Homo sapiens: one gene and its partners. Changing the gene in region 1 together with any one later gene gives a genetic interaction. Each region holds a gene or a part of one and is shown in the gene's direction. Other genes may lie near its edges.

The links.
Region 2: changes in SREBF2 (region 1) and TPR together harm fitness more than expected from each alone (negative genetic interaction), as found in Homo sapiens cells (one large-scale study listed by BioGRID).
Region 3: changes in SREBF2 (region 1) and RPP21 together harm fitness more than expected from each alone (negative genetic interaction), as found in Homo sapiens cells (one large-scale study listed by BioGRID).

The regions. Positions count from the first base shown.
Region 1 is NC_000022.11:41,874,556-41,878,207, forward strand, and holds part of SREBF2 (sterol regulatory element-binding protein 2), read left to right. Parts: intron 1-781; coding exon 782-896; intron 897-987; coding exon 988-1,169; intron 1,170-2,673; coding exon 2,674-2,866; intron 2,867-3,386; coding exon 3,387-3,568; intron 3,569-3,652.
Region 2 is NC_000001.11:186,351,254-186,354,905, reverse strand, and holds part of TPR (nucleoprotein TPR), read left to right. Parts: intron 1-1,055; coding exon 1,056-1,218; intron 1,219-2,795; coding exon 2,796-2,930; intron 2,931-3,435; coding exon 3,436-3,576; intron 3,577-3,652.
Region 3 is NC_000006.12:30,343,573-30,347,324, forward strand, and holds RPP21 (ribonuclease P protein subunit p21), read left to right. Parts: upstream 1-1,583; 5' UTR 1,584-1,599; coding exon 1,600-1,656; intron 1,657-1,725; coding exon 1,726-1,826; intron 1,827-1,894; coding exon of another isoform or gene 1,895-1,918; coding exon 1,919-2,001; intron 2,002-2,859; coding exon 2,860-2,985; coding exon of another isoform or gene 2,986-2,992; intron 2,993-3,140; coding exon 3,141-3,238; 3' UTR 3,239-3,285; downstream 3,286-3,752. Other genes in the region: TRIM39-RPP21 protein, read left to right, coding at 1,726-1,826, 1,919-2,001, 2,860-2,985, 3,141-3,238. UniProt on the Homo sapiens protein: Component of ribonuclease P, a ribonucleoprotein complex that generates mature tRNA molecules by cleaving their 5'-ends.

The DNA.
Region 1 (3,652 bases):
ATTTTCCTTGCCTACAAATCTGAAAGCTGTACATCCTAAGTAAAAATCTATGCCTTAAGATAACTGTCCAGGCTAGGCACTGTGGCTTACGCCTGTAATCCCAGCACTTTGGGAGGCTGAGGCGGGTGGATCACGAGGCCAGGAGTTCAAGACCAGCCTGGCCAACATGGTGAAACCCCGTCTCTACTAAAAATACAAAAAATTAGCCGGGCGTGCTGGCAGGTGCCTGTAATCCCAGCTACTTGGAAGGCTGAGGCAGGAGAATTGTTTGAACCTGGGAGGCAGAGGTTGCAGTGATCTGAGATCGCGCCATTGCACTCCATCCTGGGCAACAAGAGTGAAACTCTGTCTTGGAAAAAAGAAAAAAAAAAAGATAACTGTCCAACAATGCTGTGGTTGTTTTTTTCATTTGTTTTCGTTAAAGTTTGTTATGGTGCTAGGATTATTATAAGAAGTGGGAACAATAGCTAATATTTATTGAGTGTCAACTATTTGCCAGGCTCAGGGCTAAGCCCTTTACACTCATTATCTCATTTAGCCCTGCTGCAAGCCTGTGATTCACGCGCTTTCATTATCTCTGTGCTAATGAGGAGGAAAGTGAGGTTCTGAGGTATGGAATAACTTCTCCCGAGTGGCACAGCTAATCATTGGGAGGACCAGCATCTGAACTTGGTTTCTCCTCTCACAGAGCCATGCTGTCATCCCAAGTGCTAGGGCTCTGCTCTTTTCACACTGTAGCCTGCACTGGTCTCACTGTGTTTTCACTCATCTTCCTACCCAGATGCACAAGTCTGGCGTTCTGAGGAAGGCCATTGATTACATCAAATACTTGCAGCAGGTCAATCATAAACTGCGCCAGGAGAACATGGTGCTGAAGCTGGCAAATCAAAAGAACAGTAAGTGTGCTGAGAAAAGGCTTGTCAGCCCTGGCCCAGGTGGGGCTTTGTAAAAGCAGATCATTTTCACCAGGTGGGGTTTTCTTTGCAGAGCTTCTAAAGGGCATCGACCTAGGCAGTCTGGTGGACAATGAGGTGGACCTGAAGATCGAGGACTTTAATCAGAATGTCCTTCTGATGTCCCCCCCAGCCTCTGACTCAGGGTCCCAGGCTGGCTTCTCTCCCTACTCCATTGACTCTGAGCCAGGAAGCCCTCTATTGGATGATGCAAAGGTACAGACTTTTGAAATCTCCTGATCCCTGGAATCTTTCCCATTTCCCCTAAGAAGATAGCTGGGAGGTCACAGTTATGAGGCCAGGCCGCATGTTAAGAGGGCCTAGCCTGGAGAAAAACAGGAATTCTGTGAAATTAGCCAGGTCCTGGAGAATAAAGAAAGAAAAAACTGACTCCGGGGGGAAACAGTCCCTCAGGTTTAACTGGTCCTTGCCGATAGGCCCCGTCAGAGAGGAATGAGTGCCAGATCCAGAACGAGAATGCAGAGTAGCTGTTGTGGGGGCGTTGGGAGCTGCTGGAGGCACCTCATTGCTTCACTCTGCCTTTAATGGGCCTGGCAAGACCACTTTGGGAGGCTGATCAGTTGGTTTAGGATGAGGCTGCCTCTGGGTCCTCTTTTCAGAAATGATTACAATTTGCAGTCTAACAGATAACATTTTACCTATGGGCCTTTAATCGTCAAAGCCCCTGGCAATGGTAGTTTAATGGAATTACTTAAGAGACGCTCTGAGCCTAATGATCTTCCTGGGAACCTGTAGAGACCACTGGGTTTTGTACTGTATTTTGACTTCGGCAGTTTCTGACTCTGAAAGCACAAAGTTCCCTCCTAGTGTTTGTTTTTGACTAAGCTGTTTATTGTATCATATACTTAATTTTACTAAGGAAGCTCCATTTTTGAAATATTCTTATAAATGTGGTTCTGTTTGGCAACAACAGGCTGTTTGACATATAAATTGAATTAGCTGGGCTTCTGAGTCATCAGAAGAAAATCTTAAATGGTTTTAAAATATTGAAAAGAAATGACATGCTATATACACATTGGGGCGCAGGGGAGATCTGGCTTCAGCCCTCCTGCTGTAAAATGGAGAGTGGGGTGGGTGTAGACAATGATACAGTTTTAGAACAGGTAAAATCCTTTAGATAGATTCACACTAAATACGGTCTTTGATCAACTTCATTGAGGTGTAATTTAAATGCAATAAAATATACCTACTTTAAAAGTACAGTACCAAGAGTTTTAACATAATGTACAGTGCTATGTAACTGTCACTGTAATCAAGATATAGAACATTTCCATCACCCCAAAAAGCTCTTTTGTACACCTTTGCAGGTAGTTTCCCACACCCCTCTCCAGCCTCAGACAATGACTGATTCATTGGTTTCCTGTTACTTTAGATTCATTTTGCCTGTTCTGGAATTATACAGAAACAGAATCATACAGTGTGTTCTCTTTTGTGGTAGATTTCTATTTTAAAAGAAAATCTCTTCTACCTTTGTTCTTTGGAACATGTACTTTTCTCAGTTAGCAAGCAGGTGAATGTGCCAATGTTTGAGCAGCAGTTAGTGAATTATAGGCTTCTCAGTTCCCATCTGGCCTTAGTCCTGAGTTAATCGACTTGAATTTAAACCTCATAACCATTTCTCAATATATATATATGTATTTATAAAGTGCTGTAAAAACCTATGCAGTATTTATTCCAACCTCGAGGCCTTGTTTTGAAGGTCAAAGATGAGCCAGACTCTCCTCCTGTGGCGCTGGGCATGGTAGACCGCTCACGGATTCTTCTGTGTGTCCTCACCTTCCTGTGCCTCTCCTTTAACCCCCTGACTTCCCTGCTGCAGTGGGGAGGGGCCCACGACTCTGACCAGCACCCACACTCAGGCTCTGGCCGCAGTGTCCTGTCATTCGAGTCAGGTAGGTGGAGGCCCCTTGCCCCACCTGGGCATGGCTGGACCACTATGGCAGGAGAAGGACCCTGTGTACAAACTTCTTGGCTTGGCTACCAGGTCCCAAAGGGCTTTTATAGTGGGCCCCCACCTGCTTGCTTCTGATAGGGACTGGCATAAGTTCCATTTTAGAAGTAACAAGGCAAGCCCAAGTTCAGTCAGAATGAGCAAAACAAATCAGGGACCCACACTACTCTAAATACCCTGGGGTGGAGGGGTGGTACCTATTTGAAGGAGGATATCGTGTTTTTTATCTGAGGTTGCAAAACCAATGCCTCAACCCTTTCAAAACAAAGATTTTTATGGCACTCAGCTCCATAATGAGAAGGGCTACAGTCATTAGCCCTGTTTAGATTATAGAATTATTTGCCCTTTCTTCTGAAAATGAGGTAGAAGACTCTTTCCTGTGATAGTGCTGGGGTCTGTCAGGTGCCTGGCTGCTCCGCAAGGCCTTTCCTAGCAGACTCTGCTGAGACGCTCCTTCTTAGGTTCTGGGGGCTGGTTTGACTGGATGATGCCTACTCTTCTCTTATGGCTGGTAAATGGTGTGATTGTCCTGAGCGTCTTTGTGAAGCTGCTGGTTCATGGGGAGCCAGTGATCCGGCCACACTCGCGCTCCTCGGTCACCTTCTGGAGGCACCGGAAACAGGCAGATCTGGATCTCGCCAGAGTGAGTTCTGTGTCCGCCCTTCCCCATCCTCCCCCAGACTTGACAAATAATTCAGCAACTCGTGTCAAAGAAAGTCCTATGATA
Region 2 (3,652 bases), on another chromosome or scaffold:
AATAAAAATAAGTTGAAGTTCATGTGAGGAATGTTGGTAGTTTACCTTCCTAAGATTAAAGGACTTGTTTCGGTAGGACTTAATTCTTTTAAAAATGCACCAGATGATGAGAGAAATGAGAGCAAATTTTATTCCACCTTTTCTATTCTAGGTAGAAGAGAAGCAAGTGCTATGTAGTTTTAGGAGAATTAATTTTCTTGGTCACATCCAAAGAAATAATAAATATTTCATGATTATTTGTTATTAAATTCATTGAATGCTTGTTAGTTTAGTTTGTTAGGACAATATTTATTTTTATATAGTACATGATAAAACTGTTTCTGTTTTATAGCAGGCAGGATATATTGCAGGCAGTTACCCCTATACATCTAATAGTTCAGCAACCCCAATTAAAGCACTTCTTTTTTCTCTGTTGATACCTCTAGCCAGCCATTATGTCAGCTTTCAAGCACATAAGAAAATAAAACTGAGGATTATAGAAGAAAAAAGGATTAGCAAAAATCCATCACTAACCCTGTATAATAACTTAATTTGTATACTGCATTGTAGTGGGTGTCTGGTGTTATCAATATTGCATTGTCATTACTTTAAATATAATTGATTTTTTAAAAATAAGATTAAAAAGTTACTTAGCATGAAATACTTTGCTTACTTAGAACTTGAACCACTACATTTGGAATTGGGAAAAAAGAATGAAGGTTTTACCTTATTACACAAGCCACTTCTTCATAAATCATAAAATTAACCCCTTTCCCATTTAGAAAAAAAAAAGTGCAGCTTGCTGCCAGCGCTCATTTAATTTTACATAAGCATGCTGTTTGAGGTTGAGGCAAATCTGACAGATTTTCAGTGTGAAAATAAAATATAAAAACTGTTCCTGGAGTTATTTCTAAGCAGAATTCAACTTAACAGAAATATGTATGATGTTACATTAGGATTAGAGACAATATTCTCAGGGCATTTGGGGAAATGGGTTAAGCTATTGTGAAATTTCTTCAAGGGATTAAGCTAGGATATCATTTCAGTTACTTGTAGAATTACTTTTTTCATACCAGTTATGAAATGCTGCAAGATAATGTTGAAGGATATCGTCGAGAAATAACATCACTTCATGAGAGAAATCAGAAACTCACTGCCACAACTCAAAAGCAAGAACAGATTATCAATACGATGACTCAAGATTTGAGAGGAGCAAATGAGAAGCTAGCTGTCGCAGAAGTGAGTCCAATATCCCTTGTCCAACTTGCATTATAAGTTGCATTTGACATTTCTTTAGTTTTTACTTTGAATTTTACTCACTGATAGGACTTAGGTATTTAAGAAGTTTGGAGGTTACACCAAGTAATTAATACATAGTTTGCAAATAGCCAGTGTGCGTTAGTGGGGTGATTGTTTCTATTAAGATAGAAGAGGGAAAGGAATTTGTTTTTCTGCTGGGCTAAGATATACTCGCAAGTCTTGCATTTCAAAATAAATTTGTAGGTCAGTGTTTGGTTCTAACAAAGACGTTTTTTTTTTTGGTTTTTTTTTTCTTGAGACAGAGTCTCACTCTGTCGCCCAGGCTGGAGTGCAGTGGCACGATCTTGGCTCACTGCAAGCTCCGCCTCCCGGGTTTACGCCATTCTCCTGCCTCAACCTCCTGAGTAGCTGGGACTACAGGTGCCCGCCACCACACCTGGCTAATGTTTTGTATTTTTAGTAGAGATGGGGTTTCACTGTGTTAGCCAGGATGGTCTCGATCTACTGACCTCGTGATTTGCCCGCCTTAGCCTCCCAAAGTGCTGGGATTACAGGCATGAGCCACAGTGCCTGGCCAGACGAATATGTTATTCATTCTTGCTCATCTGTAATAAAAAGCAATATAAAAATTACATTGCATTGAATTTATATTTCTGAATTTTAACTTGAATATAAATGTCCATTTGAAATTATTACTTTTAACTAAATACTTAGTTTTGTGATGATAAATTTTTTATATAGTTTTCTTTGTTATTCAGTTATCTCTTCTGTCTTTGATCATTACTTGTAAGCTAGGTATAGTTGTCCCCCATTTTACCTGTGTAAAACAGACTCAAGAGCTAATGTATAATTTGCCTATTTTGGGACAGTCATGAGAGATGGGTTGGTTAGGACTTGAACCCATGTCTTATAATGCTCTTATAAGGCTGTATTCTTTATTTTTATCTTGCTCCAACTCCATTGTGAGGAGTGGGCAGCAGCACTTTTTCAAACTGGTAGAGTGAATTTTATCATTGATCATTTATATGAATCTGTGTGTAAATATGAGTACTTGTGTGTAAATATGAGTACTTTGAGCTTTCAAAACACTCTCCCTGGTCCCCTTGAGACTCAGACTCTTGGGGTTGAGGGGAGGGAGAAACTTTAAATAGATCAATCATCACTTTTAAACAGGTACTTTGAAACCGGCTTGGATTCTAAAAGTTACATAATTTAATAGTAGTCAGGTATGAATGATTACAGCAGTCATGCAATTCTGCTTTCTTCTTCTCACATATTAAATTTTTCTTGCTGTTATTTTTTAAACTGTGGATTGTTAGAGCAAGGAACCATAAGTATTTGTAATTGAAAGATTTTTTCATTGATGATCCCCAATAATTTTTGCTTCGTATTTTAGCACATGAAACTGTTTTGTATTTCCTTATACAATGAGGAGATATAGTCCCTAAGAGCATTAAAAAAAAGTAGTGATGTATGAATCATTTTAATTTTATAATCTTAATACACTTGACACCATGTTTTTCAGCATTTTTTATTTCATTTCTACTTATGTTTAGGTAAGAGCAGAAAATTTGAAGAAGGAAAAGGAAATGCTTAAATTGTCTGAAGTTCGTCTTTCTCAGCAAAGAGAGTCTTTGTTAGCTGAACAAAGGGGGCAAAACTTACTGCTAACTAATCTGCAAACAATTCAGGTAACCAAATAAAAAGCCTATGTAGAAAAAATGTATAAAAGTTAAATTTAGATTTTTTTTATCCTCTCAATTTCCTTAATTAGAAAATTTATCCATCACTTTTGTCATCCATTATGATCATTGAATTTTGCAGTTTATTAAGACATTTAAATATTTTAAATAAAATATTGAAAGAGAATTGATTGAAACCATACATTGGTAAGTCCTCAGGTATATTTACAGTGTCCTGTGCAGTTTTACTATTTATAAGATTAATTCTTTGGTTTTTATTTTCTTTAAAACTTTGGGAAATCTGAATGACGATTATAATACATTCCATCTCTTTCCTGTATAATAGATGTTTTAATATAAAAAATACCAGAATACTTTCTTGATAAATACTGTAGATTTTAGCTGCTTCATGTAGAAATGGGTTGTAATATTGTAATTCTTTCTTGCCTTCAATTTTTATTTTTTTGTATTGCCTTTTTCTTAAGCATAACCAAAAATCTTTTCTTTGCTTTAGGGAATACTGGAGCGATCTGAAACAGAAACCAAACAAAGGCTTAGTAGCCAGATAGAAAAACTGGAACATGAGATCTCTCATCTAAAGAAGAAGTTGGAAAATGAGGTGGAACAAAGGCATACACTTACTAGAAATCTAGATGTGAGTCCATCAGAGTTCTGAATTTCTGTAGGGTGTTTATGTTCAGTAATTAATCTGGTGTGTGGACAGTCTGCCA
Region 3 (3,752 bases), on another chromosome or scaffold:
TCTGCAGTTTACTGAGGGCATTTCAGTTCCTCCTACCACCTCAACAGGACTTTGTCCAGACTCTCCTCCTCTTACCTTTGTGCCTTGACTGTGGTTCTTTGTGGCAAGATACTTTGGTTGGTTAAAATAATATGGAACAAAGGATCCACTGAAGTGATCTCTGTGTTGTGTGGTAATTTGGTGACAGCCTTGTACTGATGTGTAAGAATCACTGGGTGTTAGACATGCATGTTCCTGGGTCTCACCCTTAGTGGTTAGTCAAGGTCTGGGGTGGGCCGGACATCTACATTTTATTTATGAGACAGAGTCTCGTTCTGTCGCCCAGGCTGGAGTACAGTGGTGATCTCAGCTCACTGCAACCTCCGCCTCCCAGGTTCAAGCAATTCTCCTGCCTCAGCCTCCAGAGTAGCTGGGATTACTATGGACTATAGCCATGCACCACCACACCCGGCTAATTTTAGTGGAGACAGGGTTTTGCCATGTTGGACAGGCTGGTCTCGAACTCCTGAACTCAAGTAATCTACCTGCCTCAGCCACTCAAAGTGCTAGGATTACAGGTGTGAGCCACCGTGCCCAGCCTACATCTACATTTTAAACACACCACTCTCATTTGAGTCCGAAAACCCTTGTGAAACTAGTTCCAGAGGAGGTTTCAGCCATGTCCTTCCTCCCAGCTGGAGCCCTGCTTGTCTGTCCCCGCCTGGCACTGGGTCTGAAATTGGAGAGAAGTCATCCTCTCCTGACTTATGCTGCCCTCCCCATCTCAGGGTTCATTGATCTTCTACCCCTCCAATTCATGTCCCTCTGCTTCTGACTTCAGTAACTGATAGTCACTATGAGTCACAGGACACCAGACAGAAGAACTGGAAGATAGAAGAGGTCAGAGGGAGGGGTGTGAGGTGAATGTCAGTGTGGGGAGTGGGGTGAAGTTTCAGGGGCAGGGGATGCTGTTGACAGATTTCTGTGCTGTACCTAAGCCTAGGAGTTAGAAACCATTCACTCAGAAAGTGAGGATCACCTACTGTGTGTCCAGCACTGCATAACAGGAAGTGTGTTTCTTTGGTAGGTGGAATAGTAGGAGTAAACTGTGCTTTCTGAGGACCGGGAGTCCTTTTCCCTCCCTCCAGCACCCTCATGATCCTTCCCACTTTCACCCCCACTGGCACCAGTGCTTTTTTTTAATGTATTACCTCTGTGCCTTCCGTCTGTAGATCTTACAGGCATCTGCCTCGGACCTCAGGAGAGTAGGGCAGAAGCTCTAGCTGGGTATAAATTGCACATAACCATCTCCCCAACGTAGCTACATAAAGAGACCAGCCTTCTGTCCTGAAAATGGCCGATTTAAGATCCTCACCTGCTCCACTAGGTCTCTAGGTGATATAATTGGTCATGAGCTTGAGGAAGACAAAAGCACTGAAAATTCATAAAGGGACCCTGGGCATGGATTGCTGGGGTTGTGTTTAGAAACCGATGAGTTTGTGAGGCCTCCGGGAGGCTCCCGAGGGCGCGGGGACTACGTTTCCCAGGAGGCCTCGCGCGGACGCCCGGGCGGGGCTGTGCGAGGGGTGGGGCTGCGGGAGGCCCTGGAGCGCGGCGGTGATGGCGGGGCCGGTGAAGGACCGCGAGGCCTTCCAGAGGCTCAACTTCCTGTACCAGGTGAGTCTGCGACAAGGGCCCCACGGGGACGGTGCTCGGCGTCCCAGAGTGACTGCTCCCCTCCCGCAGGCCGCCCATTGTGTCCTTGCCCAGGACCCCGAGAACCAGGCGCTGGCGAGGTTTTACTGCTACACTGAGAGGACCATTGCGAAGCGGCTCGTCTTGCGGCGGTGAGACAGCCACGGGGCGGGCGGCGGGCGGGACGCGGGAGGAACGCGAGAGGGAGCGCGGGCGCCAGACCACTATCCTCCTCCGCCCCCAGGGATCCCTCGGTGAAGAGGACTCTCTGTCGAGGCTGCTCTTCCCTCCTCGTCCCGGGCCTCACCTGCACCCAGCGCCAGAGACGTGAGTGCTCCAACGGAGGTGGAAGACTGCGGAGCATTGGGGGCGCGGAGGGGGGCGGGGTGGGGGGCGGGCACTGGAGGCCAACAGCGCCTTTCTCACTGTAGATGGATGTTGGGTGTGGGATTCGCAGGAGTCTTCCTTCTTCGGGTTTGGATTAAGTTCCTAACGCCACTTGCACAAACTAGGGTTTGGGCTCGGCTGTTTTTTTTTTTTTTCTTCCAGTGTGGGCAATAAATAATAACTTTTAAGAGGCAACCCCACCCATGCACAATAATAGATGTTGTTCGGCTTTGTGGAGGACGATTCCCATCACCATTCATTTATTAAGCAAATACTTATTTTCTAAAATGTGTCAGGTACTGTGCTAGATTCATTATTCTCATTGAAATTACGGTCTGATGGGACAGACTAAGAAACAAAATGGTGTAGAAAAAGATTAACTGGGGGAGTAGAATGCTCACTTACTCATGCCAGTGGTGGCGAAGTTTATGATAAGCAAAGGGAGTGAGAGATGGAAATTCTAGGCATGTGTGCAGACTCTGAGACAAGAGAGCTTGTGGTGCTGTCAAAGAAATGAGAGTTCAGGAGGCTGGAGTTTGAGGTAGGAGGGCAAAACATGAGACTGGAGGGGGAAACAGGCCAGTTCTTGAAGTCTTGTTAGGGAGTTTGAACTTTATCTTAAAGAGTTCCAGGAAATCGATGGAGCTTATGCCGAGGCCTGACACCATCAAATGTGCATTCAAATTGGGGGTGTGGTGGGGGAGCGGGGATACCTACTGAAAAACACTGGAGGCAAAACTGGCAGCAAGAGACCGTTACTTCTAAACGTGGACAGTCTTTTTCCCATGTTCACCCTAGGCTGCAGGGGACAGCGCTGGACCGTACAGACCTGCCTAACATGCCAGCGCAGCCAACGCTTCCTCAATGATCCCGGGCATTTACTCTGGGGAGACAGGCCTGAGGCCCAGCTCGGGAGCCAAGCAGGTGAGAGGTGAGGGAGAAAATGGAGGACACCCCAGAGGATAGGGACAATGGAGAACGTAGAGTGAAGAGGACACATGGACAGGTTCTGGGTTGGTGTGAGAAGTACCACAGTCAGAAAACTAATTCTGTTTCTCTGATTCTGCTCATTTACTCAGATTCCAAACCACTACAACCCTTGCCAAACACAGCCCACTCCATTTCAGACCGCCTTCCTGAGGAGAAAATGCAGACTCAGGGTTCCAGTAACCAGTGATGGATTCACCCCATCTCCCAAATAAAGTTTACTTGTTTTACATTCCATGATTCTGTTCTGTGGGTATTTCAACTCTTAATTCCATTTTCTTCTGTTTCTGTCTGTGTTTCTTGGTCACCTTTGTAATCCCACCATGCAGGGAGATCGTGATTTCCATAGACCACTTGGCCTCACTCAGCAGCTTGCATTTCCAAGGCCATGGCCCCAGTTCCCTATCAATGTCCTGAGCCACCTTAGGGCATTCCATGTTTGGGCAGCCATAATTGCTGACTGAAGAGCTGGAGAGAATGATGCCACTGCTGCTGTTTTTAAACAAGGGGAGAAATATGGGGCAGCGGAGAGTGTTTGTATCCTCTAGGCCCACTCATAGTCAGAAAAGACTCAGGTCTTTTCCCAGTCTCAAAGTTGTCTTTAATAAAATTCTGATAAAGGAAATGGCGCAAACCTGAACTAACAAAGTCAAAGATGCTAACAAAGGACACCGACAGACATTTTGCAATTATGTCCCATAGGT